4 separate regions of the Homo sapiens genome follow, and regions 1, 3 and 4 are each reported to be linked to region 2. The links are microRNA targets in miRTarBase. Many come from high-throughput screens and were not tested one by one. Region 2 holds a microRNA gene; each other region holds the end of a gene's coding sequence.

Evidence for each region. The annotated mature microRNA hsa-miR-5010-5p reads AGGGGGAUGGCAGAGCAAAAUU and lies in region 2 at 5,230-5,251, shown strand. An mRNA with a match to its seed (bases 2 to 7 or 8) in the 3' UTR can be bound and repressed. Matches are read on the target gene's strand: a 7mer-m8 pairs with bases 2 to 8, a 7mer-A1 pairs with bases 2 to 7 and ends in A, and an 8mer does both.
Region 1: miRTarBase lists CITED4 as a target of hsa-miR-5010-5p. Seed matches in the 3' UTR shown: 7mer-A1 at 6,661-6,667.
Region 3: miRTarBase lists DIRAS2 as a target of hsa-miR-5010-5p. Seed matches in the 3' UTR shown: 7mer-A1 at 1,462-1,468, 7mer-A1 at 1,937-1,943 and 8mer at 3,089-3,096.
Region 4: the mRNA of E2F4 is a reported target of hsa-miR-5010-5p. Seed matches in the 3' UTR shown: 8mer at 6,103-6,110.

The regions. Positions count from the first base shown.
Region 1 is chr1:40,854,605-40,862,455 of GRCh38, forward strand. CITED4 (Cbp/p300 interacting transactivator with Glu/Asp rich carboxy-terminal domain 4) reads right to left here and starts at 7,759. Exons shown (of 1, transcript NM_133467.3): 1 at 6,450-7,759. The coding sequence starts at 7,523. The coding sequence ends at 6,969. It overlaps LOC105378676 (a long non-coding RNA gene), which reads right to left and starts at 2,890. Exons shown (of 3, transcript XR_947239.2): 1 at 2,458-2,890. LOC124904157 (a long non-coding RNA gene) reads left to right here and starts at 7,780. Exons shown (of 3, transcript XR_007066025.1): 1 at 7,780-7,851. RefSeq lists silencers at 7,546-7,625, 7,786-7,851.
Region 2 is chr17:42,508,979-42,515,978 of GRCh38, forward strand. MIR5010 (microRNA 5010) reads left to right here and starts at 5,210; the gene lies at 5,210-5,329. ATP6V0A1 (ATPase H+ transporting V0 subunit a1) reads left to right here. Exons shown (of 22, transcript NM_001130021.3): 20 at 4,883-5,000; 21 at 5,311-5,482.
Region 3 is chr9:90,606,792-90,614,642 of GRCh38, reverse strand. DIRAS2 (DIRAS family GTPase 2) reads left to right here. Exons shown (of 2, transcript NM_017594.5): 2 at 780-4,811. The coding sequence starts at 816. The coding sequence ends at 1,415. Among named protein-coding and RNA genes, the nearest start is that of LINC01501, 28 kb to the right of the region's middle. RefSeq lists enhancers at 666-1,166, 1,167-1,667.
Region 4 is chr16:67,196,820-67,204,670 of GRCh38, reverse strand. It overlaps E2F4 (E2F transcription factor 4), which reads right to left. Exons shown (of 10, transcript NM_001950.4): 8 at 7,025-7,072; 9 at 6,760-6,804; 10 at 5,753-6,663. The coding sequence ends at 6,548. ELMO3 (engulfment and cell motility 3) reads right to left here and starts at 5,540. Exons shown (of 20, transcript NM_024712.5): 1 at 5,267-5,540; 2 at 5,078-5,118; 3 at 4,915-4,987; 4 at 4,670-4,720; 5 at 4,310-4,479; 6 at 4,121-4,220; 7 at 3,863-4,014; 8 at 3,703-3,781; 9 at 3,236-3,286; 10 at 3,029-3,151; 11 at 2,798-2,929; 12 at 2,593-2,694; 13 at 2,387-2,495; 14 at 2,138-2,274; 6 more. The coding sequence starts at 5,344. The coding sequence ends at 794. MIR328 (microRNA 328) reads left to right here and starts at 2,276; the gene lies at 2,276-2,350. RefSeq lists a silencer at 6,145-6,204.

The DNA.
Region 1 (7,851 bases), not on the chromosome of region 2:
GGCCAGGCTGGTCACGAACTCCTAACCTCAAGTAATCCATCCACCTCAGCCTCCCAAAGTTCTGGGATTACAGGTGTGAGCCACCGCACCTGTCTGGGGATTGTTCTCATTTGTAGAGTCACGGAGGGTAGATATCCACGAACATCAAGTCCAGGTATCTCCGTGAAGCAGAAGTGTGGCCAGGGATGGAGCAGGGAGTCCTCCACAGCCCATTAGAGGGTGGTCTCCAGCGGGGCTCATTTGTATGCCTCTTCCCACAGAGGAGCTCAGGCTTAGGGCTTTGCCATAAAACGGGCACATCAGACAGCAGACTGCCCTAGCCCAAGAAAGGGTGTGAGCCAATCGTTTTGTTTCAAACAAACACATGTTTTTGGTCAAAATAAATATACGCTTAAGACAAAATAATTTTCAAACAATGTAGAAAGCACAGAGTAAAAAGTCAGACCACCCCCACACAAGACTTTTCAAACACACACGATTCCATTATACTACACATACGTTACATACATATACATAATACACATCTCTTTTTTATATAAATAGGATTATAATATTTTATTTTATTTTATTATTTATTTATTTTTATTATTTTAAGACAGAGTTTCGCTCTTGTTGCCCAGGCTTGAGTGCAATGGTGCAATCTCAGCTCACTGCAACCTTTGCCTCCTGGGTTCAAGTGATTCTCCTGCCTCAGCCTCCCAAGTAGCTGGGATTACCGGCACCCACCACCACACCCAGTTAATTTTGTATTTTTAGTAAAGATGGGGTTTCACCACGTTGGCCAGGCTGGTCTCGAACTCCTGACCTCAAATGGTCCACCTGCCTCGACCTCCCAAAGTGCTGGGATTATAGGCATGAGCCACCACGCCCAGACTATTTTTATTTTTAAAAAATTATTTTGAAAATTTGTTTTGCCAACCTTAGAGTTAACTACACCTCATAAATAAAAAATGAAATTTTAAGTTTAAAATGTATTAAAATTTTCCTGGACTCAAGTGATCCTCCTGCCTCGGCCTCCCAAAGTGCTGGTATTCTAGGTGTGAGCCACCATGCCTGGCCCAGCACTTCCTAATGCCCTCTGAGCCACACAGGGGGCGATGGTGAGCCTTACAGTCTGGTGGAGAAAGACCCCTCAGCGACTCTGACACACAAGGTAATAGGCCTTTGGATGTGGAAAAGGCCCTATGGAGGGCATTTCAGGCTGAGGAAATGGCACAGGCAAAGGAACAGAGGCTTGGCGGCACGAGGAACATCGTGCATGAGGAGCCTGGGGTGGCTGGAGTTGAGGGTGGGAAGGCACTTGGAGGCTGGGTGGGGCAGGGCTCTGTCCTTCTCGTCCCTGTGGTCATATTTCCCAGCCACAGCTCCACCTGAGCAGCTCACGGGTCAGGCACTTAACATCACCTTGGTTCATTCTCACAAGAAGCTTATCGTGTCTCTATTTGACAGACGAGGGGACTGCACTCAGAGTAGCTTCCTTTATTTCTTCTATCCATCAGGGCACACTTTGGGCCCTGGGCCTTTACTCATGCCCAGTCCCCCAACCTGTGTGTCCTCCCCAAGCTGACCCACATCCCACTCTTTTATCAGCACCAGCCCTCAGGGCCGTCCAGACGCTGAGCTGCTCAGCAGTGCCTCCTTAGAGCCCTCAACATGAGACTCTACGTTGCATGCTCCAGGCTGGCCAGATCTCAAGCCCCAAAGTATATGCAGGTGTCCTCTTCCCAGACCAGCTACAGGATAAGGGCCATGGTTGTTCAGCCACAAACCCACTTTGGCCAGGCAGCACTGCACTGCTTGCAGTGTGCTCTCAGAAACCCAGCCTCATGTGAATCTTTGCACACACATTCTTCAGATGTTGGAATTATTCTCTCCATTGGATGGAAGAAGGAATCAAAGCCTAAGGAGGCCCAGTAACTTCCTCTGCAATTCACAGCCTCAGAGTGGCAGATCAGCTCTGGGACTCTGCTCTTATCCCACCCAGGCTCAGGTCCTTGGCCAGATCCAGCCTGGGAAGGGGACAGGCCCTGGATATGGTGGGGTGGACATGCTCACCTCACCTCTTACTGAGGTGTGACTTGGAGTAATTCTCTGAGTGCCCCAGTTTTCTGACCTCTGGAATGGGGATAAACTACCTAGCAGTGCTATTTACAGGGTTGGGCGGTGATTAAAGAGAGACTGGAAAAGAAAGAGTGCCACTGGGCACTCCCCGTCAGTTCCCACCATGCCTGCACGCAGCAGCCACTCAGTAAGCACTTATTTGGTCTTATAGTTGGCACTAATCTTGTCCCAGCACTTCTAACAACAGGGTGGCATGAAGAGTTAGGCCACGATGGATTAAGGAATTCAAGAGGATTACTTAGTAATCAGCTAAACCACTTAAGCTGCCTGGGAAAAGGCTAGGATCAGACTGATCATTAATTTATTCGATAAATGACTGTTGAACACTTATCTGACCTGGAGTGATGACGATGATGATGACAATGACGATGATGATAATGATGATGACAATGACGATGATGATGACAATGACAATTATGATAGTGATGGCAGCGCTCAGTTATTGAGAATCTACCATGTGTGGGGTATTTTGTATAGAGTCTCATCACATCAAACCTGTAAGGTTGATACATTTACATTTTGTTGTTTTTGTTCTGTAATGGGGAAGGTGCTGGTCAGGTCTGAGACTAAGGTGAGGCAAAAGAGATACCCAGGGCATAAATTTAAAGAGTCCCTTGCTGTTGGGAACCAGAGTCCCCACCCCAGTGCTTGTGGTGAACACTGTGATGTGCCGCCCAGAGCCCCCTTCTATGAAATCATTGCCCTAGTCTGGGCACGGTGGTGCATCCTGTAATCCCAGCACGTTGGGAGGCCAAGGCAGGCAGATCACTTGAGGCCAGAAGTTGGAGACCAGACTGGACAACATGGTGAAACCCCATCTCTACTAAAAATACAAAAGTTAGCTGGGTCCGGTGGCACATACCTGTAACCCCAGCTATGCAGGAGGCTGAGGCAAGAGAATCACTTGAACCCGGAAGGCAGAGGTTGCAGTAAGCAGAGATCGCGCCACTGCACTCCAGCCTGGGCGACAGAGTGAGACTCTGTCTCAAAAAAAAAAAAAAAAAAAAGAACAAAAGAAAAGAGAAGAAAAGGAATCATTGCTCTAGCCCCCAGGAGTGCTGCTGTTGGTAGACAGCCGTACCCTGGCAGCTCCTCCAGGGATGAGCTTAGCTGGGGACAGCTGCCTTGCCCACAGTCACACCACTTCTCTGGGTGGCTCACATCCAGTGACTGATGGAGGCAGGAGTATAAAGGATTAAAATGGTCCAACTCAGGCCAACTCTGAAGGGCCCTTCTAGCTCCAGAGCTCCCAGCGGGGCTGGCTGAGGCTCCTGCTGGGCCTGCTTTGTAGCTTCTTAGCTCCTTCTGTCCCCTCCCTTCTGCAGCTGCTGATCCTGAAGGCACTCCCTAATACACCTCTTGCTAGCTGAATGTCATCTCAGAGTCTGCTTCCCAGGGAACCCCACCTGTAACAGTGTTGCTTGTTGGAGTAACCCCTTTCTAGCTGGTTAAAACACAGCCTTTCTAATATTCTAATACAAAGGCATCTCCAAAAAGTGCTGTTATCAGGGATAACAGCACTTACTACAAACCACACTGCTCTCAATACTTTACCTGCACTAACTTGTTTAATCTCCACAGCAGTTCTGCAGGGTGGTACTATTAGCATTCCCATTGTAGAGATGAGTTCAAGGGAAATTATACTTTTCTTGAAGGAAAAAAAACCACACACACAAATGACAGCTTGTTGATAAAATCCAGTCAACCAAAAGATAATTCAAAATAAAGAACATCAGCCTGGAAACTTTCATATGAATAGGAAAACAAAACAAAACAACAACAACAAAAGGATGGGAAAATGACTTGTGTCATGACTCAGTTCTCAACCCTGAGGAAGCCTGATTTCTGACCCCCAAGATCCAGCCTAGGTATAAGAGAGAAATCCACAGCACCCTTTGGCAACAGGTTGCTTTAGGAGGCAGCCCTGGGGGAGACATGAGCGACACCCTGTTGGCACCACGGAAGCTCGTGTGATTATCTTAGGAGAGCCAAGATGCGGGAGGTGTGGTGGCTTCCTTGAGGTCAGGCAGCTAGTAAGAGTTGCTTCTGAACTGGACCCTGAGGCTGTCAGACGACAAGCCCATTGCTCTCCTCACTGTCTCTACACGTACTCTCTCTTCCCCTGGTAGGGGATGGTAGGGTCAGAAGCCTCCAAACAGTATCAGGGATTTGGGGATCCAGGCTGTGGGATGCCCCAGCCTCATCTTCTCCCCTGTCCATCTGTCTGCTGTCCAACTTGTCAGCAGTCCCTTTTGGAGGGATGCAGGAGGGAAGAGCTCAGCAGCTGGACTCTCTCCTCCGCTTCCCCCTTAACTCTGGAAAGAGGCAGGTGTTGGGGTTTTCGTTGTAATCCCTTCCATATGGAGAGCACTTCAGAGTTTGCCAACTGCTTATCAACCCATCTCTGAATTTGTTCCTTACTAATTGTGAGGGTTATTGCTTTGTAATGTAGCAGGGCAGGGATATTAGCCCCATTTTACTGGTGTGGAAACTGAGGGGAGAGAGAAGAGAATCAGGGAAGTGTTCAGCTCAGGGTCAAACCCTCCTGTACTAATTCAGCCCTGTGGTTTCTGTCTCTGGCCTGGGGTTCTGGGCAAAGCAGCGGGGCGGTGGGGTGGGCAAATGCCAGCCCCTCTGAGCCCAGAGCTCAGGCCAGTCCCTTCCCAGAAGGCTCTCTTCCTTTCTCTCTTCATCCTGTCCCAGAAATCCCATGATCTTAGGGAGACCTTTATTCATTTGCCAAACACCTCCTGTCACCAGCCACATTCCATCCTGGTAGCTTCAGAGCACAGTAGGTCCTGGGAGAACTCACAGGTTGGTGGAGGGTCACATCCACAAAAAAGCCTGGCTTGAGAGTCAAGCCCAGCTGCTGGGGACAGAAGGTCTCAGCCTGGTGTTCCCCTCCAGTGTCCCTGGAATCCATGCTCTCCTAGAGAATGCCCCACCACCGCAGCGTCTCTGACCCGGCCTCCTCCCTGACTTCAATCTCTTTCCCAGCTTTTCTCCCACATCTCAGAAGCACCTAGGGATTTTTCCAGAGTGAACTGCAGAGGGTGGCCAGGAACTCACGCTGGTGCTCAGGACTCTGAGGCCAAATCCTGCCAGGCCTGGGCACACTCCACAACCCTCATGTGTAGAATGAGGACTGTGCTTGCCTCACGAAGTTGTCGTAAAGCCATTCGACCTTTCTTGTACCTTCTAGACACCCCACACCTTCCCCAAACATTCATCGTACTTGTGTGCCTTCCTGCCTTGAAACAGGCTCCTCTCCTAAAAACATATTCATCACTCAAGGCTCTGTTCATCACGTCAAATGTCACCGCTTCCCTGAAGCCTGAACTGACCCCAACCTCAACTATTAATAGCTGAAACTGCTCCCTTCTCTGGGTGTGCCCGCTTGGCCGGTCTATTGTCCTGGCTGTACAATCCCCCCCAGAACTATTTTCTTTTTTCTTGAGGAGTCTCGCTCTGTTGCCAGGCTGGAGTGCAGTGGCATGATCTCGGCTCACTGCAACTTCTGCCTCCTGGGTTCAAGCGATTCTCCTGCCTCAGCCTCCCGAGTAGCTGGGACTATAGGCGCGCACCACCATGCCCAGCTAATTTTTATATTTTTAGTAGAGACGGGGTTTCACCATATTAGCCAGGATGGTCTCGATCTGTTGACCTCGTGATCTGCCCGTCTCGGCCTCCCAAAGTGCTGCTTAGCACTGTTTTCTAGAACTCATCACAGTCTTCCTTGCAGCAAGATTAGTTTGTTTTCAGGCCTATCACCCACCTCCTCCCACCTGGGCTGTGATTCCATGAGAACATGCACCAGGTTGACACAGGGCCTGGAATAAAATCAGCACCAATTTGTAGAATAATAATTGCCGTCACTTACTGAGAACTGCCCAGGTATTTGGCACTGTGCTAAAGGCAGCGTAACTACCTGAGGAGACGGGGACCATCTCCCTCTGGGAAACCGCCTCAAAAATCAGAACGGATGGTGTCTTGGGCAAAGGAGAGAGTCAGGGTCCAAAGCTAGGCTGTCTGAACTCGGTGCCACCCAGCTCCTCTCTGGCAGAGCACCAAGCTCCCCCCACCCTACCCTAGGAGCTGGGAAGCCCAGTGGGTTACCCCACCACCCAGTGGCAGCCTCTGCCCTCCAGGTTGTGACATAACAATTGCACAACCCACGAGATATTTTTGAAAGAAACTGTCGGTTTCCTCTCCTGGGCACTGCTGGGGACTGTGGCCCCCATGCCATCCAGTGTCTTCAGCAACCTTGGGACTTTGGAAGCTAAATATAGTCAGGGCTCGGGGTGATAAGGAAATGAAAACGGCAAGACTGTAAAGTGACCCAGTTTTATTTTGGTTTTGGAGGCCAGACAGGGCATTGCTCCACGGGTTCGGGCTGTACAACCTTCCCCTCCTTGAGGTGGGAGGCCCAGCAACCACAGGGCCCAGGCAGCGGGGTGGGAGGCTCAGGAGATGGTGGCTCTGGGGACCCGATCCCGAGGAGAGAGGGGGCAGCAGGCAGAGGCCTGCAATGGCTCAGATTGGGGGAAGAGGGCGGCGAGGGGGAGAGGACACGATCCAAGAACCAGAGTCCGAAAGCTGAAGCTGGTCCGGTCTCTTTCACTTTACGGCCGAGGCTGGGGTCAGAGAAGTGAAGCCAAACTGTCCTCCCGCAGGAGGCAAGGCCTGGAGGGACGCCAGGGTCCCAGTCCGGTGCCGGGCCCTGCGCACACAGCCGCCGCCTCCACCCTCGCGGAGGGCGCGCGCGGGGCCCAGTCGCTGGGTGCAGGGTCCGGCGGGCAGTCGGGCCCTTTCTCCTCTCCGGCACGCCGGGCGGGCGCCGGCCGCCCTCAGCAGCTCACGGAGCCGGCGGGCGGCGCGGACCCCAAGTCCGAGAAGCAGTCGAACTCGCTCTGGCCCAGGAAGAGCTCGGGCAGCTCGCGCACGCGGTGCAGCCCGAGCTCCAGCTCCAGCGACGTCAGCGCCTCCTCGTCGATGAGTTCGGCGTCCATGCCGCCCAGGGCGTGCGCGGGCGGCGGCGGGGCTGCGGCGCTTGGCGCCGGCTGCGGGCCCGGGGGGCCTCCCGGAGCGTTGGGGGGCGCGGCCGCGCGGCCGGGGTACGGCGTCGCCACAGGCTGCAGGTGCGCGATGCCCGCGGCCGGCGGAGGCACGGCCGGAAAGGGCTGGAAGGAGGACGGCGGCCCGAAGGCCCCGTACGCCAGGGCCCCGGGTTGGCGGGGCGGCGGCGGCCCCAGCGGAGCCCCCCGCGGCCTCAGCCCACTGTCCAGGCCCGGGCCCGCGTACGGCGGCAGAGTCCGGAGCGCATGAGGGCCATGGGCGGCCGCGGCGGACGGCGGCCTCTGCACCAGGCGGTAGCCCTCGGCGAGCATCAGGTGGTCGGCCATGGCGGCAGGCCGGCTGCCTGCGGGGACAGCGCGCGGTGGTCAGCGCCGGCTCCCCCGGCCCGGGCCAGCGGCTGCTCTGCGGCGGGAGACCCGGGCACCGTGCGGTCCCTGCAGCTCGGCCGGGCGGAGCAAAACCAAACCCGACTGGTGCCCCGGCCCAGCCCACTACTGCGCACCTTGCGGCCGCAGCCTGGGGTCACAAAGGCCCGCAACCTGTAGTGCTCCGAAACCTCCGCGTCGCGTAGCTGGGCTCGGCGTATTCTTATACCCAGAGGCGGGGCTTCCCCGCCCTCGGACGCTCATTGGCTGGGCGAGACGCTTCTGGGCG
Region 2 (7,000 bases):
CCTCCCTGCTCCTCCTAGTGCTTGTGAGCAAACCTTACCCTTCCTCCCTGTCTGAGCCAGCCTCTTCCTGCTGCCCTCCTCAGCTTGATGATGCTTCAACTTAGAAGTGGTGGACCCTTCTCGGGGTCAGCTCTACCTCCATGTGACCCAGGTGAGAGGGAGACAGCTTTCAAAAGGAGGCTTTGCCTTCCAGATGCATCCCAAAGGAAATAATCCATCTGTGTGAAAGGAGTTCATATTATATCAGCCACATAGAGAATAACGGAGACTGGAAAGCAAATTGGCTAACTGTTCAGGCCACATCTCGAGTAGAAGGCCCTCTGGCTCAGCAGTAATTCACTTAGCAACATACACTCTTTAAACTGGGTTTTTAAAACACCTTGCTGCACTGTTTGCATCTTCCCCCAGCACTTCTCTCTAAAATGCCTAGACCCACAAACCATACCCTTCCCTTCCTGACTCTCGGTCCTCTCTAGGAGGGCAGTGGGATGGGAATGGGAAAGCCTTTGCTGTTCTGTGTAAACACAGGTAGGGCCTGCTCTTCCTGAAGCCTAGAGAGGCTCCTTTGCTGGCATCAAAGAGTGTCTGTGTTCCTGGACTGCTCATCTATGCAGTCCCTGGCTGAGCTACCTGGCAGGGATGGGTGGGGCGTGCTCCATGTTAATGAGGAGCCCAACCCTTTCCCTGGCTCACTACCTCCAACAACACTGCCTTTTAAATGTTTTCCTAGCCGAGCACCCACATTGTCAGAATGGTCTGACCAACTATTGTGTACCAGCGTTCTCGTTTGTAGCCATGTCCCAGGAGGTTGGACATCCAACAAGATAGACTCTAATTCAGCCTCCCCAGTCTCTGGCCACCCAGCTCACTCAGGGATTCAGCTACCCTTGGCTACCCAAGTAGTCTAAACATTTTATCTTTATCAGGCACATATACAGTCTGGTTCTCTGTAGCCAAATTTAGATACCCATGACATTTATCTAATGATTTCAAACCAAACAGGTTCCTAAAAAAACATTCAGCCTACTTCTAGAACTTCCCCATTTTGCTTGGCTGTGAAAATGTATTTGTCCCATGCAGGCCCTTGCTCCAGCCCAGTGGAAGCATTAGTACCTCTTCCTAGCGGGAACTCAGTCCAGCTACACACCAGAGCCAGGCCAGTGGTTGTCTGGGAAATCTTCAAAGGCCGTGACCACTCAGCAAGGGTCAGTGGCACCTCTCCCCACTGTCTCCTCACCAGGTGCATTCATCCCATCCATCCATGCATTCACTCACCCTCCGTGTTGTCCAGCACTATGTATAGTGCTGCAGAAACAAGAAGAATATAGTGCTTGCCTTCAAAGACCTCCCAAAGTGGGGAGATAGTCTGGATGACAGGTGCTGTAATAGAAGTGTGCCCCGGATGCTATAGGAGCACAGAAAGAGGGCAACTGATGAACACTGGGGTGAGAGTGGAAGAGGAGACCCTGGAAGACTCCCTAAGGAAGTTGTCTTACTCTGGTCAAGCAGGAGGCCCTGTAGAGGGAGTGGTGCAGACCCACCAGCATATGCAGCTTCACAGGGGCAAAACACCTGTAGGTCCATCACGTGTTGGGGACTAGCAAGTATTCAGCTTGGCTGGAGCAGAGGCAGGAGTGGGGAACTGGGGACAGGTGAGACTAGAGGTTGGCAGAAACCAGCCATAGTAGTTTTTGCCTCATTTGGACAACAAGGAGCCATCCAAGAGAGAGCGGTGAAGCTGATGGTGACACAGCCATGGCGCATTGAAATACCCCCAGTGGCTGTGTTGTAGGGTATATTGGGTTGGGGAGGGACAAGGTCAGGAGGCATAGACTCGACATCATCTGATGTGATTCAGGACAGAATGGCGAGCCTGAAGTGAAGTGTCTGTAGGATAAGTTGGAAAGGAAGGAACCAATATGAGATATTAAAGAAGTGAAAGCTATAGGTCCCAGTGCCTTAATAAAGGTAAGGAGTAAGAGAAGATTCGAGATTGACTCCCAGACTCTCCAGTCTGCTGGACATGGGAGATGGAATAGAAGTTGATCTCGGTGTGGTCAGAGGAGAGCAGTTACTGTGTTGAGCATGGAGAGCCTGTCGTTCCCCAGGAGAAGGAGTACAGCTGGCTGGAAATAGGCAAGGCAGAGATGGAGAGATCCACCTTGGAGTCACTCCTAGGGGCGACCCTTGAAGCCCTGAGTAGCAATCCCACCAGAAAGATGCAAGGGCTGAAGCTGAAACTTCAGAGAGCATCGGCATTTAAGGAAGAACCTTGGCTGGGCGTGGTGGCTCACGCCTGTAATCCCAGCACTTTGGGAGGCTGAGGCGGGCGGATTGCTTGAGCCCAGGAGTTTGAGACCAGCTGGCCAACGTGGTGAAACCCCGTCTCTACTAAAAATACATAAATTAGCTGGGCGGTAGTGGCATGTGCCTGTAATCCCAGCTACTCGGGAGGCTGAGAGAGGAGAATCACTTGATTCTCCTGGGAGGCAGAGGTTGTGGTGAGCTGAGATCGTGCCACTGCACTCCTGTCTTGAAAAAAGAAAAAAAAAAGGAAGAACCTCGATGGAGACTAAAAAGAACTGTCCAGAGAGGTAGGAGGAAAACCAAGGGATGGCAGGTATTTCAAAAAGGAGGAAGAGGCTATGGTGACAGACACTGCAGGAGCATGGACAAGGGCACAGAACATCTGTTAGCTTTAACAGCTGGGCCAGGCGCGGGGGCTCACGCCTGTAATCCCCAGCACTTTGGGAGGCCAAGGTGGGTGGATCACCTGAAGTCAGGAGTTTGAGACCAGCCTGGCCAACATGGTGAAATCCCATCTTTACTAAAAAATTAGCCGGGTGTGGTGGTGCGTGCCTGTAATCCCAGCTACTGAGGAGGCTGAGGCAGGAGAATTGCTTGAACCCGGGAGGCAGAGGTTGCAGTGAGCTGAGATCGCACCACTGCACTCTAGCCTGGGTGACAAGTGAAACTCCGTCTCAAAAAAAAAAGTAACAACTGGGAGGTTAGGGTGACCTTACTAAGTAGAGGCATTTTGTGGAGGAGTGAAGGTGGAAGCCAGGGTGCAGTAGGGTGAGGACTGGCTGGGCAGAGAGGAAACTGAGGCAGAAGATGTGGACAGGGACTCTGCAGCGATTCATGGTTGGTCATGGCCGATTGATACGGGCGTGTGCTGAGTGGCAGACTCATAAGTGCTGAGCTGGATTTCTCACCCAGTCCTTGCTTCTCCTGAGAACACCTGCAGGAAGCTGGGAATGAAGGAGAGAAGGCAAGGGTAAGGCCTGGAAGCGAGGCTTCTCTCCTGTCCTGCAGTTTATTCGGTGGGAGAAACTTGAGGTAGAATAAAAACACTGAAGGGATTGGCTGTAAGGGAGCCCAGTGGTCACTGCCCTCCCAGCCCATAGGAGTAGAGATCAGCACTCCTGGGAGCCATGGACTTCTTCCTCTCAATGCGGGCCCTGGGGCGGCAGCCAGCAGTGGTAGGAAAGAGCTCTTAACCACGGTGTTGGGATTTAGGGAACTCAGGGAACTAGGATTACCCTAGTTTTCAGGGTAAGTAAGGAAGCTTGAAGAGCCTGTTCCGGAAGAAAAGCCCAGAAATAGGCTAGGTGTCGACAGAGGTGAGGGAGAAGCAGACGTTCGCCCAGAGATGGCATGGTGGAGCCAGCCCCCTCCACGCTGGCTGCACCCCTGTGGCCTGGGCTGTTGTGGCTTTACCAGCCAAGCCACTTTCTCCCATCCCCATGTTCTCAGTGATTTCCCAAGGCATTTCTGGTGTCCTTTGGGAGTGGAATCACGTGGGTTTTGAAAGGAACTGCGGTGAAAAATAGACCCTGACCTGAGGGCAGGGGCCGATGGGGAGGCCACTGAGCCCTCAGGAGTGTCTGAAAGCTCAGAAGATTCTGGTCTGGGCTCTGCGGGGGGAAGCCCCATAAGGGAGCGCCTCCTGGTCTTTGGTCAGCTTGACAGAGAGGCCCAGGGAAAGTACCTGGGGCTTCCAGAATATACCAAATTCAGAAGCCCACATTCACCCCTGACTGTGCTTGGAGCAAACCTGAAAGTTCACTCCCAAGAGCTTGTTCCAGCCCATTCCTTTATTCTGGAAATAATTCTTGGTATTGAAAGGAAAACTGGGACAAAGGGAGCTTGAGGAAAACGAAAACAAACAAGAAACTGGAGATATGCTATTTAGTCTTAACCCAAACAGATATGCTGTTTGGCCTTAACCCATGTGGAAATTTGTAAACTTTGTCAGGATTTCCCTGTGCATGGTGGTGAAATCATGTAGGGAAAAAAAAATTCACCGTGTAATCTCTTTAGAAGTCACAAAAGAAAAAGAAGGTTATCTTGCTCCCAAAAGGCTGTAAAAAGAATAAGTAAAGTGGCCATAGAGGCCTAGTCTTCTCAGGACAGTGTCCGGGTTGAGAGTCTGTCTCCTGAAGCGCACTCTGGGGAAAATCCCTTCCTGCCCTCCTGCAGGTCCTTAGGGTCCCAGACCCAGACAGTCACTTTCTCAACAGAGTGCCGTCAACTCAGCACACACTCCTCTCTTGAGCACAGAGCCCCAGAGGGAGAAGAACAAATGTGTTGAAAAGAATCTTATTAAGATGTAGTTAATTAAAATGTAATGTATTGAGGGGAATGGAGGTGTCCCAGGTGAGGGCTAAGTCAGGCAGGATTTTTGGGGAAGGCATTGCCGAAATCACCACCTGAGCTCAACACTGGGTGCTTCTGGCCCCTCCAGAGTTGAGGTGCCATCCATGGGAAGTGCAGTCCCCTGCCCTGGCCCAGGTTCAAAGCGCCAAGTAGCCACAACTCAGAATGCCTGCACGTTCCCCTCCTAGCCTTATATCTTCTCTCTGGTTTCCTCCCACGACAGTTTGACTTTGGGGACACCATGGTCCACCAGGCCATCCACACCATCGAGTACTGCCTGGGCTGCATCTCCAACACTGCCTCCTACTTGCGGCTCTGGGCCCTCAGCCTCGCTCATGCGCGTGAGTACCTCTCTCCGGGCTCCGGAACTCTAGTTTCCCCCTCTGTGGGCGCACTGTCAGTTGGGGGGCTTAAGTCAAATGGAAATTACATGAAGGTTCTGGAATTATTCAGGTTCCTGAACCCAAGGAGAATGAGTACAGACAGGAGGCTCAGCACTTGTGCCAGGTTAGCTCTGCATGGTGGTCCCACTAAGGCAGTGGGAAGCCAGGATCCAGGGAACCCTAGAGCAGGGGGATGGCAGAGCAAAATTCATGGCCTACAGCTGCCTCTTGCCAAACTGCACTGGATTTTGTGTCTCCCATTCCCCAGAGCTGTCTGAGGTGCTTTGGACCATGGTGATCCACATCGGCCTGAGCGTGAAGAGCTTGGCGGGAGGTTTGGTGCTGTTCTTCTTCTTCACTGCCTTTGCCACCCTGACCGTGGCCATCCTCCTGATCATGGAGGGCCTCTCGGCCTTTCTCCACGCACTGCGCTTACACTGGTGAGGGGCAGTGGGGCAGGGCGGGCATGGGGGTGGATGTGTCCTTAGCTGCGGTGAGAGGGCAGCTTTTCTCCCACACACAGCCCTGCAGCTCTGTGCAGGAAAGATGAGCTGGCCCTGCACTAGCTTCACCTCAGGACACCCCAGCACCGGCATTGCCACAGAGTTTCGGAAAATGGTCACAGAAAAGCACAGCTCAGCCTTCCCTAGGCTCTAGGGAGATGTCCCTGGTGAGTGGTGTCAGGTCCCGCTCCCTGCCTTTAGCTGTCCCCAGTGCTCCTGATTTTGGCTTAAAGGGGCTGCTGGGGTCTTAGGGTTTCTGGTTTTCTCTCTGATGTGTAACTCTTCTGTCTTCAGAACAGTGGAAGCAGCTCTGGAATGTATGTTAAGTGCAGGAAAGGCTAGAACACGCTGCACCCCAGCTTTATCCTCTTTGTTCTGTCATTGTGCCAGGGGTCTTTGAGTTGGACCCCTGGCAGCTCCATTGTGGACCGGAGGGATTCCTGGCTCTATAGGGTGGAGGTCGGTACACTCACGCAGCTTCTTCACATGGGCAGGTTTGGGGTGGTTCTGTTTGTTTTCTTTAATGAAGCTTGTGACTCTTAATGGCTGTGTGTGGAGAGAGCATGAGTTCAGCCTCTGGGACTGGGAGAGCGGGGGTGTGGTCTGGGCTGTGACCACCTCAAACCAGCGTTGCCAGATGTAGCACATAAAAGTACAGTTTGGCTGGGCACGGTGGCTCATGCCTGTAATCCTAGCACTTTGGGAGGCTAAGGCAGGTGAATCACCTGAGGTCAGGAATTCGAGACCAGCCTGGCCAACATGGTAAAACCCCGTCTCTACTAAATATACAAAAATTAGCCAGGTGTGGTGGCACGTGCCTGTAATCCCAGCTACTCAGGAGGCTGAGGCAGGAAAGAATCTCTTAAACCCAGGAGGCAGGGGTTGCAGTGAGCTGAGATTGTGCCACTGCACTCCAGCCTGGGCAACAGAGCGAGACTCTGTCTCAAAAAAAAAAAAAAAAAAATAGGGGAGGGGTTGGGGGCCAGGCACGGTGGTTCACTCCTGTAATCCCAGCACTTTGGGAGGCCGAGGCGGGTGGATCACCTGAGGTGGGGAGTTCGAGACCAGCCTGACCAACATGGAGAAACGCTGTCTCTACTAAAAATACAAAAACATTAGCCGGGCATGGTGGTGCATGCCTGGAATCTCAGCTACTTGGGAGGCTGAGGCAGGAGAATCGCTTGAACCCAGGAAGTGGAGGTTGCATTGAGCCAAGATCGCGCCATTGTACTCCAGCCTGGGCAACAAGAGTGAAACTCGGTCTCAAAAAATAAAAATACAGGGTGTATTTCACATAAACAACAAATAATTTTTTTAGTATGAGTATTTCCCAAATGTGCATGGGATATGCTTATACTAAAAACTGGGGCAGTCTGTATTTTCTGTGGCTGTTCCACCTCAGACTCCACTTCTTTGGGTCTCTATTTTCTCCTTTATGTTGTGATTCTCTTTTTG
Region 3 (7,851 bases), not on the chromosome of region 2:
CTGAGTAACGCCCAAGTCACTGGGACCAGCTCTGTCTACAGACAGCTTATGGGATGGGCATTGACATCCACAATGCTTTGGTTGTATCCTAGCCTTCCCTCTTATTGCTGTGTAACATCAGAGACATTCCATTCCCGATCTCTTCCTTGTTTCCAGTTTCATCATTGTACAACAGAGCTAATGGCACCAACTCCTGCAGAGTGGTGAGGATTTCATGAGTTAATATAAACACTGAATAAATATTAGAACATCCTTTTCCCTCATTCATCTCCCTCTCCCAGTATTTCTCACACACACACACACACACACACACACACACACACACACACACACACATTATGATGACCAGTATATTGGGTACTCAGTACTTCAGGTAAAACAGCAAAGATATGCTGCTGTTGATGATGGTGATGTGTGTGTGCATATGTGTGTTTGTGTTTTTACGGGGGTAGTTAATTTATCTTCTCATTGCCTTTCCTTGGTGCTGTCTCTCGGGCTCACTTTGCATCTTTTACCTGGGCTTAGGGCCTATGTGGGAGCAAAGATGCTCATTGTCATGGTCCAATAAAGAGAAACAGATGGGCTCCAGTGAGCCCCTGAGTAGATCGTCTGTCCTTTTGAAAACGGCGGATTGACCAAATTTATTGGATTTAGAATTGTCGCTATTTTAAATGTTATCACCTCCCATTTTTAAGCTATCAAAAGAGGGTAGAGCTATCCTTATTAATGTTTTTATATTTTAATTATTAATTCTTTCAAACATCTGGTTCCTTTGCTAGGTGCGTCCTGGCTGAGAGTTGGAGCTCTCCAGCAACATGCCTGAGCAGAGTAACGATTACCGGGTGGCCGTGTTTGGGGCTGGCGGTGTTGGCAAGAGCTCCCTGGTGTTGAGGTTTGTGAAAGGCACATTCCGGGAGAGCTACATCCCGACGGTGGAAGACACCTACCGGCAAGTGATCAGCTGTGACAAGAGCATATGCACATTGCAGATCACCGACACGACGGGGAGCCACCAGTTCCCGGCCATGCAGCGGCTGTCCATCTCCAAAGGGCACGCCTTCATCCTGGTGTACTCCATTACCAGCCGACAGTCCTTGGAGGAGCTCAAGCCCATCTACGAACAAATCTGCGAGATCAAAGGGGACGTGGAGAGCATCCCCATCATGCTGGTGGGGAACAAGTGTGATGAGAGCCCCAGCCGCGAGGTGCAGAGCAGCGAGGCGGAGGCCTTGGCCCGCACATGGAAGTGTGCCTTCATGGAGACCTCAGCCAAGCTCAACCATAACGTGAAGGAGCTTTTCCAGGAGCTGCTCAACCTGGAGAAGCGCAGGACCGTGAGTCTCCAGATCGACGGGAAAAAGAGCAAGCAGCAGAAAAGGAAAGAGAAGCTCAAAGGCAAGTGCGTGATCATGTGAAGGCCCTTCCTGCGGGAGGAGCAGCTGTGTGTCCCCGGCACCTCACTCCCCCAAAATGACACCCACCGTCGTCAGGGTAGCATGTATAATGCCCACGTGTTAAACATTGCATTTAATCGAGATGCGTCCTATTGTCCTTAAGAGGGCGTTTCACACCACCAACAGTAAGCCACCCACTCTGGAGTCACAGAATCTGCCAGGCGGTTCAAGTGAAAACCAACACACTCAGCATCCCTGGGAACTGAGAGGTGCCAGCAATTGCTGAAGGTGGCGATGAACACCCGAAGGTGGGAGGGAGGACTGGTACCCACAAAGCAACATGTACCGAGAGGACTAAATGTCATCTACGTGCATGTGAGAGCGTGTTAACCTAGAGTTACCTGCACCAACCCCAGACAGAAGCCAATCACATCTTTGGGGGAGGGGAGGGGCAGGAAGAGGTGAGAAGATCAGATGGTCCAAAGTGGACCACACTTGGTCCATTTTACACTTTTTTAAAGGGGATTAAAAAACACAGCCTCTCCCCCAAAGGGTGTCCGTTCTTAATTCCCACCTGGCCTGTTAGGAGCCTTGCTACCCTGAGGGGATGTGTTCACCTTACCTAGACCTAGTTAGGAAGTATCATTTTAAGCTATTAGAGTATTTATCTTCATGTGCAGGGATAAGTGCACTAACAGTGTGCTGCTCTGTCGGAAGTTCTTCAGTTTTTAAGTGAGGATATCGTGACAGTATTAAAACATCGCAATAATGTTCCTGTGTGTTATACATCGAGGGTTTTAGAAATGTGATTTTCTTCTTTTGACCTGTGAGGAGTATAACTTCTTTCAGCCCTCAGATTTTAAATACAAGCAAATAAACTCACTATTTTTAGACGTTTTTTTCCTCCAAGGTGGTTTTCTTCTCTTAAATAACTCGATCTGTACCCAGCTGGGTAGCAGCCAGCAAAGGCCATCAGACAACCAGAAGCACATCCATTTTTGTAGTGTCACAAACATGTATATGCCACACTTTGCACCTTAATGAAATACTTTGAAACAGAAGTTATTCACTGTGTTTTTGATGATCTATCTGTATTGGAAATATGTTCCTGGAAAATGCATTTAAATAATAGTAAATTCTCTTGCATGTTCCATTATACGTGTCTTCTAAGAGCTGTTCAATACAGTATTCACTCTAGAAACAATTATCTTTTTCTCTTAATGATTTTGTGTGCATCTTTAATCTTTCAAGCCAAATTACAGCTATTTCAGGTTTCCTGTGTTAGCTTGGGGATAGGATGGTGGCTGGAGACAGGCAGGCTTCTCTGCCCTGGGAAGAGCCCACTCAGCTTAATTGCTCTGCCATCGTAGAGCCTGGTTGGACTTGGCTTCCTGAAAACTCCCACTGATAGTGCCTGTTAGATCTCCTGTTTGTTTCAGTTGGCAGAACATTTACTGGCCCCAACTGTGGCATCATCCTCTCAGCAGTCTTCCTGTCACCCGCCTGGCAGGCAGAAGGAGCTGCAGTCCCACGTGGGCCTGCCTGGGGGGGTGGGGGCTGCATGGCTGTTGGGTGGCAGTGTCAGCACAGGGAGGGCTTAAGTTGGGGATGTTTGACCAGGCCACCTCCTGCAACTGCTGTTTCTCCTGTCCCTCCTATGCAGGGCTTGCAGCAGCAGCAGTGTGGCCATCTCCATCCCCCAAAGCACACTTGCTCTCTCAATATGTCCTAGTTTTCTTCAGCCTTTTCTGGTTCAGTTCCCTTGTCCTGATCTCATCCTCTCTGGTCTCCCAATAACTCACCCTTGGGATGTGTTTAGAGCGTGGGAGGTGCCTTTGAGAACTGCTTGACTCCATGATCTCCTAGAACAAAACCGCCCTGACTTTACAGGGGGAACACTCATGCTGAGCTGAGAAAGCAGAGAAGTGGCGTGGGAGCCAGCTGGGGGTGAAGAGCATTTGGGCCAGTCCCGTGGCCCCCTTCAGATTCCTCAAGCAGGATTGTTCTGTTCTAAAAAGCTGTTGCACAGCATTCGCAATGAGATCTTTAGTTGGCGGATTTTCTGGAACATTTGTTTTTCAACTTGTCCCGACATTTTTTTTCTGTTTCTATTCTGAGAGAGAGATGATCAAGTTTTAATTTGGGTATAGGTTAAATGGAAGAAGAAACAGAACTTCATGGCCAAAGTAGACCTATAGATTTTGATTGGGTTCTTTGTTAACAGTAGAATGCGATCTTTGCCACTGACTGTAGTATTAATAAGGTTTTAATGTGAGATATTCCTGCAAACCATCCCATTTCTACTGATTGTAAGTCAGAATTTCTTTTATCCCTTTCAAATCAGTTTCTACATGTTTAAGTGTTCAGGGCTTCATCAGCATGAGAAGTTTGTAATTACTGAAAGTCTGATTTCATTCAGGACACATTTTTTCCTTCATATTTTTTCTGTGAATTTATAGGCTAGGAAGGCTATTGAAGCCTCAATTATGGGTCTTCATTTTGAGATCGTTTTCTATGAGCTGAACTGAGGATATCAATGGTTATCTCAAAATCGTCTTTTAGGAGATCCCCAATTGACTCAGAGTTTGAGGAGTTAGTATCACAGAATTAGATTTTTTTAAAGCATTTGTACGTTTCCATTCCCAAATATGTAGCTGTGGTTCTTGAAAACACATCCTACATTGCATATGGGCATAGCAGTTTTTGACCCAGGCAGAATAAGTTAATATTTAATTAAATATTGCTTTGAAGATGGCGCTCTGGGCATGAGCATGGGGCTCCATGACTTCCCTTCTATCCCCATGAGCCCCTCCTCCATCCAGCGACAAGCCATGGGCATGCATACAATGCAGCAAGACCAACACAAGAGCAATATTGAATTGTTCATTCTATCTAAAATTACATGTATATAAAATATATAATTTATCTTCCTGCATTTTTGAAGTATAAAGTCATAAATTGTACATATCTGTAAGCTAGTATATTTGTTTCACTGTTTGTAATATTTAAGAAATGCTCATTCTTTGTAGAACAAAAATGTATTAAATATTTTAAAAATTGCTCTGTGATACTTAATTTTTTTCCCCAAAATTTGTAATGTGTTGCTTCTACATAAGTTCTCTGGAAATATCTACAACTAATAGGACACATGTAAATCCTTGAAGACACATCCTGGAATTCATACCCCACAAGGACAGTGTGTATACAAAGTATTTGCAGAGCATGACTTTTATATGTGTGGGATATCAATGTGTATATTTATATTTAAAGTGTATTTATTGTTACAAGTCTATTCTCTATTATATTTTATTTACTCTGCGGTTATAAAAATCACCCTTGCATACAAGTTTCTAGTTGCCAGTGATGTTCTGGAAATAATGGGAGATATTACAATAAAGCTACAGTTATGACACCCTGGCTGGAAGGTGGTGCTATTTCTTAAGGGGTTAGCTGGTCTAGGATGACCTTGACTTGGTGACCCCTCAGCGGCTGTTATGTGCTTATGACCACAATAGGAGGATATCAGGCTCTGTGCAGAACTAGCAATAGGCAACAATAACTCACCCTGGGGTGTCCCGTGAAACTTTCCCATTGCTCCCTGTCTTTGGGTGGAAATGAAGCAGAAGATCCAGACAGGTTAAGGTGAGAGAGGGAAGGAGTAGGGCAGGGCCTTACTTGTGTCAAAATAGAAGAAGTGAAGACAAACTCCCTTCTCTTTTTTTTTAATCCTGCTTTCCTCCACAACCCCAGGCTATTAAATTGTAAACCAAATATAAAATTCTAAGCCCCCCAACTGACTGATGGATGCTTCCCTTGGCCAAGGGCATTCCAAAGTTAACTCAAAAACTAGTTCAGGCCATGATGGGAAGTGGGGATCAGACATGCCTCATTATATCCTACTCCTCTTGGAATTCAGGCACAACTGACCAGCATTAACATTAAAACATCTGAAGAATGATAGACTGTTTGGGTCTGGTAGGAGGAATTTCCTTCTATTGATTCTTTCTGCATAATAGGAACCTTGGTTTCCATAAGCCCTTATCTTAATCCAGACATTCCCTTCTACTGATTCCAGTCTTTAGATAATAATCTAACTCTTTCAACCAATTGCCAATTAGAAAATTCTTGAATCTACCTATGACCTGGAAGCCCCCACTTTGAGTTATCCCACCTTTCTGGACCAAACCAGTGTACATCTTACATGTATTGATTGATGTCTTATGTCTTGCTAAAATGTATAAAATGAAGCTGTAGCCAGATCACCTTGGGCACATGTTCTCAGGATCTCCTGGGGTTGTGTCTAGGATCATCAGTCACTCATATTAGGCTCAGAATAAATGTCTTCAAAAATTTTATAGAGTGATTCTTTTCATTGACAAAATGATGGTGTTTTAAGTCTGGGACAAGCCAATGCCTGAGACATGGAGTTGCAGCAGAGCAAGAGGTTTAATTGTAGGGTCACCCAGTGAGGAGATAGATAGGAGGAAACCTCAAATCCATCTCCCAGAGGGCTGTGGGGCTAGTGATTTTAAGGGTTTTGGAGTGGGCCACAGCATGAAGTGTGGAAATCATTGATTGGTCAAAGAGTTTGGGGTGAAGTCGTGGGATGAGGATGAAGAAGCTGCAATCTCATGCTGATTCCGTCCTTCTGTGGGGTCTTCAAATTGGGTGCTGGAATTTGGGGGCTGAAAAAATCTTAAGTGATCCTTAAACAAAAGCCTTATGATTCTAATGTCAGAGGTCCTGTCTATGGGAACAACAGGGATGCAGATCAATTCTTAAACCATCTTATAACCTTAATGCCAGAAATCTTATCTACAGGAACGAAGAGATACAAATGGTCAGGATCTAGTGCTACGTGACTTTTAGCAACAAGGAAGTGGGCCAAAGTGCAGCCTGATTAATGTTTAATTATTATTCTATTTCTATCCAGAACCTGGCATGCCATTCTTGTCAACCCTGTGGGGACAGTTTCTGCCCTAGCATTGTTGCTGAGTACTGCTTCTGTTTGGTCTTTATTTCTCTTTTTCCACACTAATTGTGAAATAAAGCTTAATTTTGATGATGCAGGAAAAATCCATCAAACACTAAAAACGAAATCCTCACTCTGCCACGGAATGGCTAAGTGACACTGGGGAGGTTCTTGCCCTCTTAGTGCTTCTGCAAAATGGGAATGATTAACGTCTGCAGGGTGGTGGCCCTGAGGGTTAATTTAATGATAAGCACAAAGCACAGAGCTGGCTTGTCATATATTGAGCTTTCAGAGGAAATATACAAAAATCTGCTGACTATGTAGCATTCTATCTGGAAGGTTGGCGGCAAAGTGAAAATCAAACTACCCAAGTACAAAAACCACCAGAAACTTCCGCTTCTTCCAGCCTCTTTATCAACAGCTTTCCAGGTCTTGCTGTCTGCATGCCCCTCCCTACTCCAACCCTCCGCCCAGCTTCAGGTCATTATTGCAACATTAGTCAGGGCTCCAATTTACGGAGATAATGACAATCAGCCGACCCTATTAGGTATCATTAAAGGGTATTCTGGTGCTTATCAAACTTTAATGTGCAAATGAAGTACTTCAGGGTCTTGTGATTCCATAGCCTCTGAGGCAGCAGGGCCGAGTGGGGCCCGGGAGTCTGCATTTCTATCAGGCTCCTAGGTGATGTCCCTGCTTCTGGTCTGAGACCACACTTTGACATGCAAGGCTGTAATCTACTTGCTCTTTAGTTTTGTTGCACATGAGAATCACTTGGTAAAGGAGTTTTGCAAACTATTGATAACCAGACCGCCTACCCCTCACAGAAACTGTGTGTTAGTAGGTAATTTTGATATGGAATTGAATTTAAGAATCACTGCTGTTAGCCAAGTTTAGTTGGGAATGCCTGCCAGCTCCCTAAGTCTTGGGGCGGGATGGAGATGGGAGTAGGCTTTGTTAAATCAAGTTCCTCTTTAGTGACTTTTTTCAGTCAGTGGTATTGAGGGTCTCGGCTTTCTCTATGTAGAACATTTTCCAAGGTTAGCATTGAGAGAAAATTGTAATTCAGGTATAGAGCATCTGCCCACATGCTCTACCCTGGGGAGTTCCATCAGGGCTACGTGGGCAGTGATGTCCCTGGTTGTGGGTCTGAGCCCCAGCAGCCATCTGGAGCACCCCTCCTTGCCCTCCTGATCTAAGCATGGCACACTCTCTATTCTTAACAACTCCTCAATCTTCTTCAATGCCTGCAAATACTGAAGACAGGTGCCCCTAAAACCATCTTTGCAAAAATTATGACAGTGAGAAAAATCTGACATAGGAAAATTATGAGTGAAAGAAATCTGACCTAAGAGACTCCATCTTGCTTCTAACCTCCAAGCTGCCCTTATTTATTCCTGGGCTTAGGCCAAACTAAATTTGGGATGAATTTATAGTTTAACTTTGAAACATAGATAATAATAGCTCCTCCTTGAGCAAACTTCT
Region 4 (7,851 bases), not on the chromosome of region 2:
TGAACTCCTGACCTCAGGTGATCGGACTGCCTCAGCCTCCCACAGTGCTGGGATTACAGGCGTGAGCCAAGCCCGGCCCTGAGTTAGGTTTTAATCAGAAACCGGGTCTTCCTGCACAGAAGTGGCTCTTGTTGGAATCAGCCCACATCCTCCTACCAGCCTGGGGATCCTGACCCTGCCCTTCTGCCTCTCTCCCTTCATGCCTCTCACCAGAGAACTCCAAGTCCTACAAAGGACACCAGGCAGGGCCATGCAAGCTTGAGGACTGAGGTCAGATTGTCAGGAGCCTTCTGGAGATGGCTCCCAGACTACGCCCCTGTTAACGCTGTCCAGGAAGGCATCCATTTGGGGCAGTGCCTCCTACCCTGCCAGTTCTCCTGCAGCAGGCCGGCAGCTCAGCCTCTCCCTTGGCAGGTGCCCCCAGACCACAGGCCAACCCTCCCTGCAGGCCCAGCATGGAGGGAGGCTGAGGACTCACCTTGGAGAAAGGCTGCAGTCCCAGCCTCTCCCCACCCCCTTCAGAACACCAGCCCCTCAACCGTAGCTGTCAAAGTTTGTGGCCTGGCCTGATGCCCCATCTTATCCACCAGCTAAGTTTGAAGGCAGAAGGGGAAGACTGTCACTGTCACAGGCTCAGCCCGCAAGGTACAGAGCTGGCTCAACATATCCCAAGAGCCAAGCAGACTTTATTTCTGCAGCAATCTCTGCTGGTCAGGGTGCCTGCACTCCTCTACCCACTGCCCTTCATGGCTGCTGCAGTGGCCGCAGCTGTGGCCCATGGCCAGCCACACTGTCAAGGTTCAGCGATGCTGCAGTCATAGCAGAAGTTGAAGTTGGTGGGGGGTGGGGGCACAGGGGGTGGCCGCTCGGGGATGGGCACGTTCTCCAGCTCCAGCAGACGCAGCTTGGTCTCCATGGTCAGCAGCTGCTCCAGGTCCAGCCGTGTCTGCTCGCTGCCCATGGGACTGCCCAGCAAGGCACTGAGCCCATCTGTCCACAGGTAGAACTGGGGGTGGCACAGAGCCGTGAGGGTCTGCCCATCTGCCTCCCCTGCCCACCTGCCGACCTCAGCCTGGCGGACACTCACCTCCCGCTTGGAGGGGGCAATGAAGTTGAGGTACGCTTCCTCCTCCCCACGGTCATAGCTGATTGAGAAGGCCAACTCATAGAGGTCCTGGGGAAGCAAGGGAGCGGGGACACTGAGCAGGGGACAGGGTAGGCGGGGGCGGGTGGGAAGGAGCCCCTGGCCCGCTGTACTCACCTTGTTCTGCTTCCCGGAGCCCTTCTCCCGGACATGGGGGCAGTCCTTGCCTGTCAGGAGTGCCCTCATGTCGGCCACAGGGACTGCAGGAAGAAGGCTGGGCTGAGCACTGCAGCCCTGGCAGCCCCGGGGCCCAGGGCGGTCTGGGGAGAGCAGGTATCTGGCCCCCGCCCCTGCCCGCCTTACGTTGCTCGGGCAGACTCTCCAGGGTAGGCGGGCTGGCGCCCTCCTCCATGTCTCCGTACTGCAGCAGCTTGTGGTTGGGGGACAGGCAGCAGAACCACAGCTTATCTGCGTGGAGAAAGGGAAGAGGGCCAGAGTGCTGAGAGGTCCTGACACCAAGCCAGCCGCCCTCTGCCTGCCCTCTGCCTGCCCTCTGCCCCCTGCCCATGCCCATTCAGAGACCCTGGCGCCGCCGGCTGCTGATCTTGCGGAAGAGCGTCCCCTCACAGAGGCGGAGCAAGCGCTGCTGGCGGATCAGGCCCATGAGCTCTGGCTTCAGCTTCTCCCGCAGCTCCCTGATAGAGGGGTGTCACTGAGCACATCTGACCTGGGGAGTAGCCCAGGGGGCACCAAGGAAGGTAGGGCTAGGACTGAGGATCCATCCCCCCAGACTCACAGTATAGGGGGAGCCAGTGTGCCCTCCTGGTGCAGCCGTTCAGTCTGCCGCAGCCGCAGCACCTCCCCATAAGTGAGCGCATTCACCTTGGTTCGGAAGAGCTCCAGGGAAGTGGGCTTCAGGGCCAGAGTGCGGGCCAGCTGCTCCCGCACCACCTGCATGACCTGGGGCCGCCCAAGCTCAGCTCAGGGCCTAAGCTCTGTACCCAGATCAGCCCCCTGCCCTGGCCCAGGCCTCCCAGCTCCCACCCCACCCACCTTGTCGAAGTCCTCCTGTGTAGCCCGCATCTCCTTCCAGGTCTTATTCAACAGCTGGATGCCCACACAGAAGAGCTCGTGGAAGCTCTGGTCTTGGCCGAAGAACATGGGTGAGAAGTCCTGGGCTGTCTCAGAGCCTGGAGTGGGGGGGCAGGAGGGGCTCAGGGAGAAAGTGCATACAGCCCCTGGCCCTCTCTGCCCTTCCGTCCCCTGCTCTTGGCCATGCTGTGCCCAGTCCAGGCCACTCACAGGGCTCCCCAACACGGAGCAGCTCACACAGCAGCACCGTCAGCTGGATGCTGCCCCGGGCAAAGGGGCACTCGTGCTTGTCCTCGCGGCTGCTGTTCTCCAACACAAACTGGGGGCGCAGAGAATGGGGCAAGGAGTCACAGCTAAGCCCATGGGGACCCTGCCTGGGGGATGCTGCCACCCCCCCACCCTACCCTGTCACCGACCCGGCTGTACGCGCTGGGCGCGTTTCTGGAGAAGTACAACATGTTGTCCAGGGCCAGCAGACCGGGGGGCACGCGCTCCAGGTCCTGTGCTGGGTTGCTGTTCTGGGGGAAGTGGGCACAGGCAGTTCAAGAAGGGCCACGGCCGCCTGGAACAACAGCCCTGGGCTGAGGCAGGGGTGGGGAGTTGGGTAGGGGTGATACTCACAGAAAAGCCCAGTTTGCGGAACTCTCGGGCACAGAGGGAACGGCGACGGTCAGCACTTAGCCCGGCACCCGAGGACTCCCCCTCCACCTCGAAGGCAGCCTGGCGTAGGACCTGCAGCTGCTCCCGCTGCTCCTGGGGTCAGTGTTGGGTGGCGGGGGAGGGGATCAAGATTATAGATTCAAGGCCAAGCTCTAAGCCACCCCCTGCCTTGTCCTCACCAAAGACACACACCTGGCTGTAGGGGTCCAGGGGCGTCCGCATGCGCGGCTCCAGCAGCCCCAGCATGAGAGCCTGCAGTACGTACAGGTGATGAGCCATCTCGTCGCCCATTGGTGCTGCACTGTGGATGATGTTCTGCAGGACAGCCAGTCCCTGGTGTAAGCGAGGGCTCACGGGGAGGGAGGGGCAGAGAGGTCCCCCTGGCCCACCACTTCCTACCTTATAGATGAACTGGCGAAGGTTCCTCTGCCAAAGATAGTCAAGCATGTGCTGAGGGGGTAGAAAGAAAGGGGGCTTAGGCTGGGCGCGGTGGCTCACGCCTGTAATCCCAGCACTTTGGGAGGCCAAGGCGGGCGGATCACGAGGTCAGGAGATGGAGGCCAACCTGGCTAACACAGTGAAACCCCGTCTCTACTTAAAAAAAAAAAAAAAAAAAAAAAAATCAGCTGGGCGTGGTGGCGGGAGCCTGTAGTCCCAGCTACTCGGGAGGCTGAGGCAGGAGAATGGTGTGAACCCGGGAGGCAGAGCTTGCAGTGAGCCAAGATCGCACCACTGCACTCCAGCCTGGGCGACAGAGCAAGACTCCATCTCAAAAAAAAAAAAAAGGGGGGCTTAGAGGATTTTGCTTCAGGGTGGGGCAGCGCCCACCGGGTGCTGCCCCCATCTAGCCACCGATCGACACTCACCTTGCGTTCCACAGGGCTGGCCCCCTGCAGCAAGGCTGTCAGCAGGGCCATGGCCTTGGTTTGCAGCTGCTGGTTCATCCTATGGCAAGAAGAGGGCTCAGTGGAACATTCAGGCTCCAGCCCTGCTCCCTGCATCTGGACCCCAGCCCCAGAGGCTTACACCTGTAGGTGCACCAGCAGCCTATCCAGGGGCACCTCGCTCTTGACCAGCTGGCCCAGGGCTGGGCTGCTCAAGGTCACACTCTCCAGCAGCCCAAGGGCCAGGGGAGGCACGGAGGCATCCATGAGGTTCATGTTCACGTAGCACACCACCTGTAAGGGGCGGGGGTGTCACCACCTCACCCCCATGGAAGACCGGGTCTACCACTGCCCCACTGCTCCACTGCCCCCACCCGCTGCCCTAGGAAAGCCCACCCACCTTCCTCACAAAGGGGATGCTCAGAGTCTCCCAGGACACCACGCCGTGCTCCATGAGCTCTGAGAAGGCCCTCAGGCTGAGGGCCAGCACCTCTCCTAGGCTGGAGGGGGGACATCTGGGGCTGAGCAGGACCACCCCAGGACCAGAAAGACCCACCATCTCCCCCAGCCCACACATCCCTGTGCTCACTCGTCCCCATCTTCAATGATGGTGCCTAGTATCTGGAGCCCATTACGGCTGATGACCTCCCTGGCAAAGATCATGTCCGAGGCCAGCGGAACAAGGCGCCTCAGGGCTTCCCGGCGCCCTTCAGGACTGTTACTCTGCAGCCCACCCAAGAGCTGCTCAGCCTCAAGGTCCTGGCAGGAACGGAGCAGGAGCAGAGGTGAAGAGGCTGGGCATGGTAAGGGTGGGACCTGGAAGTGTGCGGCCCCGGGCGTCAACTAGGTGGCGCAAGGCAGGGCTGGGGCGGGGGCCTCCGGGGCGGGGGGCCTCTGGACCTGGAGCAAAGGGGCAGGGATGGGGAAGGCGGGACGGGAGGGGCATTACTGGGGCCGTGCTGAGGCACAGGATGCTGCCATTCTTGATCTCCGCGCGGTTCTGGAGAAGACAGCAGAAAAGGCAGCGAGGTCAGGGAGGGCTCCGAGGACTGATCAACTGGGGTGTCGGTGAGGGCGGCTGGGGGTGAATAACAGATCGCGCTCCGGTAGTGGGATGAAGAGCCAGAGTTATCGGGGCCAGGTGGGTTAGAGGGGTCGGAAGGCCGAGCTTGGGGCTGGGGAGAGGGGACTCACATTCTCGGTGATGTATCTCCGGTGCCCATCCGCAAACTGCAGGGCGTAACGCTCAGAGTGCGTCAGGCTCCACCTGAGGGGCACGAGGCTCAGCGAGGCCGGCAGGGGGCGCCGCCCCTCCTGCCCTCCCGCCCTCCGCAGGCCCTGGCCCGGCAGCACTCACGCGTCGCACACCTCCTTCAGCACAGCGGCCAGGGGCTTCGCCTGCAAGTGGAGTGGTCATTCTCGCGGCCTGGGCAGGGAGGGATGGGGAGGAGCCTGGGGGGAGGGGTGGGGCGGGCTGCCCCGAGGGCCAGGGGGCTACCGGGAGGTGGGGCAGTGGGGCAGATGGAGGCGGGACCAGCCGGGTGACCTGGTCCAGCTGGATGAGCTGCGGGATGGCGTCACGCATCTTGATGGCAATCTTCACCACGTTCCGCGGAGGCGCCATGGTCCAGCTGGGACGTGGGCGCCTGCACTTTCCGGAGACCGTGCACCTGCGGCCAAGGGTGCACCTGGCCTGGGGCCCCTGGGGACGAGGAGGTCCTCCCTTTCCGAGACCTGACCTCGGTGTCCCGCACTCGCGGCCCAGACTGCTGCTCCTGGCCATGCAACGCGGCCTTCCCAAGGGAGCCGAGGTTAGTTCCGGGTTGGAGTCTGGGGGTAGGAAGGTAGGACGGCTCCGCCTGCCCCGCCCCGCCGAGGCGGCCCCGCCCCACACCAAGGTGCGGCAGGTGGGGGCGGGGAGGGCAGGCTGCCGGAGGCCGCCCCACCCCTAGTTCCAGCAAGGTGACCCACCCAATCACACTGCCAGTCCAGCACAGTCCCAAGGAGGGTCCCCAAAGAACCACATCAGAGCTAGCCTTAGGCATGGTTTTTATTCACTTGAACACTGTACAAATATTACAATTTCCTTTTGCTGCAAAAAGTATAAAAATAATCTTTATATAGGAATCCATTCGTTACTGTAAATCTTTCTAAATCTCTGCAAATGGCTCTAAATGAGGGTAAATGAAAAAGCCGAAATGAAGAGAGGGTTATGGGGCAGCAGGAGGTGGGGCCAATCATCAGGGCTGGACCACCCAGACTCCTCCCCAGAGACCTCTGTTCCTTCTTGGTAGCCGCCCCCACCACCTGCAGGTTCTAGGGCTAAAGGCCCAGCAGAAGTGGGCACGTGAGAGGGCCAGGAGGAGCTGGAGGGTCAGGGGGTGGGGGATAGCGAAGGAAGCTAGAAGTGGTGCTGGCATGTGCCCAGTTCCACCCCACCCTTCCCTCCTAGGGGAAGGAGCTGGCAGAAGCAAGACACTGAGGCTGGCAGGAACAAGACACTGCCCCCTATGGGGGGTAATGGCAGCTCCTCGGTTCTGTGCCACTGGGTGGCAGCCGAGCCTGGGCTGGCGAAGGCCGCAGAAAGGGAGAAGCAAACACTTTGGCTCCACGGTGATGGGGGCTGAGTCCTGTTCCCCTGCTCTGCGAGCACAGAAGTGCCAGCACAGGAGCGGGAGCTGTGGCCAGAACTGTGCGGTGAGGGGAGGCCGGAGAAGCCAGGCGTCTGTGGCTCTCAAGCTCTGTAGGGGTCGGGTGGGAGAGGTCCCCAGGCAACCCCCAGGTCAGACAGTCTGGGTCCCAGCCACACAGGGCATGTCCCTGTCAGTCAGAGGTTGAGAACAGGCACATCAAAGAGGTCACAGACACCTTCACTCTCGTCCAGGTTGTAGATATAATCGTGGTCTCCCGGGGGTGGAGAAAGACGAAGCAGAGGGGCAAACACTGCAGAGAGCACTAGTCTCAGGCCCTGGGCCAGGGCTCCCCTAGCAGCAGCCCAACCCCTGCCCACACCCACTCCCACCTTCCAGGGCCACCCACCTTCTGAGGACATCAACTCCTCCAGCAGCTCCGAGCTCATGCACTCTGGGAATGGAGGGAGCTCAGTTACTAACATTCCAGCTCCCACCTCTCCACCCACCAAAGCCCAGGAAAGGGAACCCCACCTGCCCATCAGGAACTTCACCCTTTGCCCCAGTTACCATAAGCGCCACAACAAGGTCCTCAAAAGGGCAAGAAAACAGCCATAGGACCCAATGAGCTGTGTCCCTTACCCCTAGCCTCAGGGAGGAATGCAGCAGCCTACCTCGTGTGGGATCAAAGATTTCTGACAGCTCTTTGGGGAGTTCCAAAACTGAAAAACAAGAAAGCCATGCTCAGGGCACAGAGGTCCAGCCTGGCCCCACTACAGCCCCCTGGCTTCCTCGGATCCTATACCACCCACCCTGAGGCTCCACACAGCTAAGGAGATGTAGGTCCTGCCTAGGCCAAGCTGGCACTGTCTGTTGGCCTCACTTGCTAAACCTGAATTCCTCAGTGCTGAGCCCAGGGTACCAAAGGCCCCCTGCAAGCGATTGGTACAGCTTTTCTAACTCGGAAAGGCCACAGAAGCCTCTTTCTGGGCTCAGCATGCACCCCCTGTCTGACAGAAGGTACCCCATCTGTCCCACCCTTGCTGAGCACCTGCTCTGTGCAAGACTGAGACCAGACCCTGGGTCAGGTCACCAGGCAGAGGTGGTGGCGCTACAGGGTGATGACTCCACTACAAACCTCTGGCCAGGAGGACACAGGGGAAGCAGAAGAAAATGCAACCAGAGAGGACTATGAGGGATTTCACATGCCAGGCTCAGGAGTTCAGATCTTATCTGGTGGCCCTCAAGGAGCCATTAAAGGTACTTTTGCAAACAGAGAAATGCCACATTTTTCTGTCAGGCCTGCATTTCAGAAAGATTAGTCTGTCAGTCAGGGTAAAGAGAAAGATGCTGAAGAATCCAGGACAGAGGTGGCCAGGGGTCATCCTGAGTGCTGAGGATACCAGAGGATAGGAGGGGACATCTGGGACAGACCTCAGTTAGCTGGCATGGGGTGGGCAGCAGAAGGAGGAGGGATAAGGAACTAGAACTAGAGTGAGAG